Linked DNA regions of Homo sapiens: region 2 is linked to region 1. A link means that fine-mapping ties the variant in region 1 to the expression of a gene that starts in the linked region. Tissue or cell type: lung. Region 1 holds a variant in brackets; the other region holds the start of a gene. All regions are shown on one strand. Distances are from middle to middle.

Region 1 (2,694 bases):
CACAACTTAGATGAATCTCCAGAGAAGTCTGCTGAGTGAAAAAAAAGCCAATCTCAAAATATTGCATACTGTTTGATTCCATTTACACATTATTGAAATGGCAAAATTATGGAAATGGAGAACAAGTTGTTACCAGGGGTTAAGAATGGGGTGGCAGCAGAATTGTTCTGTATGTTGACTGTACCAATGTCAATATCCTGGTTGTGATTACTATAATGTTACCACTGCGGGAAACTAGGTAAAGGGGTACCTAGGACTTCTCTCTGCGTTGTTTCTTACAACTGCATGTGAATTTTACAAGGATCTCAAAACAGAAAGTTTAATTAAAATTTAAAAAAAGGTAACATTTTGGACTTCTATTCAGGGCAAGATAGAGAAGGATAATCTTTTCAAAAAATGGTGCTGGAACAACTGGATATCATTTGCAAAAAGTGATCTATACCTCATGGCATAAACAAAATTTAACTCAATGGACCTAAATGCAAAACATAAAACTATAAAATTTCTAGAAGAAAACATAGGAAAAAATTTTGTGACGCTGGGTTAGGCAAAGATTTCTTAGCTATGACACCAAAAGCATGATCCATGAAAAAATAAATTGATAAACTGGACTTTGTAAACATTAAAAAAAATCTTCTCTTTGAAAGACACTATTAAGAGAATAAAAATACAATCTGTGCGCTGGAAGAAAATATTTGCAAAGCATACATCTGATAAAGGAGTTGAATCCAAATATATATAAAGAACTCTCATAAATCAATAAGAAAACAACTCAATCAAAAATTGGTCAAAAAATTTGAACAGACGCTTCACCAAAGATATACAGAAAGCAAATAAACATATGCTAAGTGCCACATCATTAGTTCATTAGGAATCCAAATTAAAATAACAATGATACCACTACACATCTATTAGAGTGGCTAAAATGAAAAAGACTGATTATGTCACATCTTGGTGAGGACAGAGAGGAACTGGAACACTCACACACTGTTGATGGGAATGTAAAATGGTACAACCGATTTAGAGAACAGTTTACCAGTTTCTTGAACATGAATGTTGATAGAGGCTTTATTTGTAAATACCCCAAACTGGAAATAACTCAAATGTTCACCTATAATTCTTGGATAAGCAAATTATGATATATACATACTATAGACTACTACTACTCAGCAATAAAAAGAAATGAATTACTGACACACACAACAGCATAATGCATCTCAAAAAAATTAATGTTGAATAAAAGACAAACAAAAAGTAGTGCATACTTTATGTTTCCATTTATATGAAACTCTAGAATATACAAACATTTATTACATTTACAGTTACAGAAAAAGCATGGGGTGGGGACAGATGAGAGGGAGGAATCATAAAGGAGCAGGAGAAAACTTTTGGGGGTGATGAGTATGTTCACTATTTCTGAGCCTCAAACTCCTGAGCTCAGGCAATCAGCCTGCCTTGGCCTCCCAAAGTGCTGGGATTACAGGCATGTGCCACCACGCCTGTCCAAATTGTATAACTTTAATAGTGCATTTTTTTGCATATCAATTAAACTTCAATAAAGCTGCCAAAAAAC[A/C]TGATATTTTCTGAATCACTCAAGAATGAAACCAGGATAGTTGCTGCTTTATGAACAGACTACTACACTTATTCCAAAAGCACTGTGGCATAGTGGAAAGAGTAGATTTTCCATCAGGAAATCTTAGTTTAAGTTCCACTTTGCTACAGACTTGCTAGCCTCTCAATCTTCAGTATCTTCCTCCTGAAAATTTCCCTGTGTATTTTATAGATAATGAGATAAAATAAGTGAGATCAGGGCTCTATAAACTATTAGTGTCATACAAATTTCCTATTCCATATTTTTCCATATCACCAAATTACCTGATATATGAGACCTACCTTACTGATGTATATTATCTCAGAGACTTACTAGTTTAGGTCAAACATAAATTTTAAAAAGTCTCTCAGATGGCAACAAGCATGCTTTAAAACATGTTCTTTTAAAAAAAATAATTTAGGCCAGGCTCCTGTGTCCCATGCCTGTAATTCCAGCACTTTGAGAGGCCAAAGTAGGAGGATCACTTGAGACTAGGAGTTCAAGACCAGCCCAAGCAACAAAGGGAGACCCAGTTTCTACCCCCATCAAAAAAAAAAAAAAAAAAAAAAAAATTAATTAGCAGGTTTCTAAAATAAATAAATAAATAAATAAAAAGAAAATATAAAAAATGTTTCAGCTGGGCACGGTGCCTTGCGCCTGTAATCCCAGCACTTTGGGAGGCTGAGGCGGGTGGATCACGAGGTCAGGAGTTCAAGACCAGCCTGGCCAAGATGATGAAACCCCGTCTCTACTAAAAATACAAAAATTAGCTGAGTGTGGTGGCGGGTACCTGTAATCCCAGCTACTAGGGAGGCTGAGGCAGAGAATTGCATGGGCGACAGAGAGAGACTCTGTCTCAAAAAAAAAAAAAAAAAAAAAAAATCAAGGAGGTCTGTTTCTAAAAAAAAAAAAAAGAAGAAGAAGAAGAGAAAAAAGAAAAATAATTTAAAAAACTAAAAATTAGCACGACATGGTGGCATGCATCTGTCCTAGCTACTCAGAAGGATAAGGCAGGACGATTGCTTGAGCCCAGGAGGTTGTGATTGTAGTAAGCTATGATTGTGCCACTGCACTCCAGCCTGGGTGACAGAGTGACATCCTGT
Region 2 (2,694 bases), 160 kb after region 1:
GATAATCACATCTAGCCCCTCTACATTCCCTTAAACTCTCCTGGAGGAATGTCCTTCATTTCCCTAAATAGCACACATTTCAGTGAAAGTGAAGGTAACAGGAATTAGTAGCTGTCATCTTAGAGACATGTTACTTAGTATTCTCTATATTAGTCTGGAGAGCTGTAACACAGACAGGACAAAGAGAAATAACCATAAGAAAAATATTATTGACAACTACAATTGTGTCAAAAAATTGGTGACTATAATGTGCATCTCTTTGCAAAACCTTTCCTTTTCATTAAATTAAAAAATGACTCTATCATCTGTTATAAACTAAAATGTCACATAAAATTTCATACTATAGAAATATCTTCTATAGTTTTGATATGAATATAGAAGGTTAATGAATGAAGCAAACCACAGGCAATGATACATGAAATTGCTACTATATATTATTTTCAAAGCTGAGCCAGATCTATATATAGAACACAAGATATTTCAAAATGAATGCTATTTGTTGTCTTTGTAATTTTACAGACTATTAGAACATTAAAAAAACCCTAGCAGAAGTATCACATGTTCATACCAAGATATTATATATATGTATGCAGATGTACATATATAATCAGATTTTAAATAATAAATACTAAATTATTTAAAAACATTATAGAGCCATACCCCCACACCCCTTTTCTAACAGTAAGAAAATAATCAACCTGCATGAACTGGAATCAGATTCATTTTCTTCTTCACTAGTGCCATCATCCACTTCTGGTCTATCCAGCCAATGTGCACCGCCACAATCTTCTGCTGTAAACTCAAATGCAGGGACTTCAGAGGTGGATGCCATTGGCCAAGAAGGTGAATTCTGAAAATCCAGTTGGCTGGACCTTCGGTAACCAATTGAAGCCAAAGGCAATTGTAGGCTACATGGATCTAAAAACTTTCTCCCACCGTTTGCTCCAGTCTGTCCTCGGTTCCAAAATTCTCCCTGCTGGCTGTCAACTGTAGAATTAGGAGATGATGCTTGATGACCAAACCACCTCCATCTGATTTTCAAAATCTGTTTCACATCAAACTCTTTACGAGAACCAGACATCCTCAGAGAAACCAAGTGATCGTCTAGGCAACGGGCAAAAAGCACTGCACACAGATTTGTGCATCCAACCAAGACAAGAGAAGTATATGCCCTGCTGTACACAACAAAAATATGTAAAGGAAAATAAATCACATTCATATATATATCTACAATTACTTTTATGCCAATATATCAGATTTTAAAGAACAAAGGATAATGAATAAAGATGAAACACGGTGGAACATTCCGTTCAATCAGAGCAAACTCTCATCCACCTATCCTGAAGCAGCTAGACCACTTTCCCGGCTCTCCTTTCCCATACTGACCATTAGGTCTCACAAACACTGACAGCATTCATTAAAGTCCTTTCAAATGCAGAACACCACCCCCTTTTTCTTAAACCACAAATGACAGAGACAGAAAACACTATCCCCGTTGCAGTATCTCAGTCTCTGCTGCTTAGTATATTAACTCTTTCATTGCTGAAACAATAAATGTATTCTATAGCATTTCCCTTTGTACTTAAAAATAATCACTTTAAAACTAAAATGTTTCTATTTCTAAACTAAGTCCCTAAGTGAAATACCACAAAACAAGTTTTTAAAAAAGCATTTGTAAAATTAGATGAGTTATGGTGATTTTCCAGGTGTGCTCTTTGGATGGGGAATGAGGAGGAAAGCGGAGTACAAAGGTGGGGCTCCAGACTATTGCCTTCACCTCTATCTTCTCCCTTCAGAAAACAAATGGATCTAATTAATACAGTAAGATCCTGGGTAAGATTTCACTTGGATAAAGAATAATGAGGAGAATAAAAAGTTTGAAAACTACAAAGGATCAAAATGTAACAAATACTCTTTTTCAAATAAACTGAGGCCAGGATTTCTCTATAAGTAGAAATGGGCCACTGCCAGTTAGTGTAACATCCAAATTTCTATGACATTACTTAGGAAAAGGAAAAGTGCGGCTCAAAAAAGCTACCAGGGACTGGGATAGGACTATTGGGTGTACAAGTGCCCTAATGGTGCCCTCTGTTGTTAGCAAAACAAACAATGGTTTGAACATGGTTACAGTTAAGGCAAATTGATAAAGCAAATACAAATAAACTCAAAAATACTGAGTAGTTATTGTGAACAATGCAATCTACTAGGCATTGTCAGGGACACAGAGATATATATATCTTGGTTCCTAACCCCCAAAATAATTAAATCTAGCTATTGAACCAAATACAAAATATTTGATAAGGTAAAATAAGAAACATTAAAATGCTGCAATATTAAAGTGTGATCTATCAATGCAGAATTTGAGTTTTCAGGGTGCTCAGTATTTACTCCTTTATCAACTAATTCCATACAAAAGGCAATGCCTATCTAAGCTGACCAAAAAACAAAAACAAAAACTACTTTGGAGGCTTACAAAAATATTGTGAGGTGTCTATCTTAATACAAATTATTCAGAGAAACAAGAATGAGAAGCATAAAAAGCCAAGTATGATTTCATGCTAAATAATACGGGAAAAACCATACAAACTGTAAGAAAGAAAGGAGATATCAGGATGGCAATGGAGTGGTATGGGCCAGTTTCATTAGGGAGAAGGCTGCTAAGAATAGTAAAACATTGTTTAGGTAGAATGATAG

Evidence for each region. PIP is the estimated chance that this variant, and not a neighbour inherited with it, causes the effect.
Region 2: KLHL5 starts here. The variant in region 1 is fine-mapped to the expression of KLHL5 in lung (TOPMed, PIP 0.95).

Annotation. Positions count from the first base shown.
Region 1 is chr4:39,220,340-39,223,033 of GRCh38, reverse strand. All of the region lies in intron 14 of WDR19 (WD repeat domain 19), which reads right to left. Among named protein-coding and RNA genes, the nearest start is that of WDR19, 39 kb to the right of the region's middle. The variant A/C (reference allele first, on the strand shown) is at 1,574.
Region 2 is chr4:39,061,040-39,063,733 of GRCh38, reverse strand. It overlaps KLHL5 (kelch like family member 5), which reads right to left and starts at 1,502. Exons shown (of 11, transcript NM_015990.5): 1 at 699-1,502. The coding sequence starts at 1,081.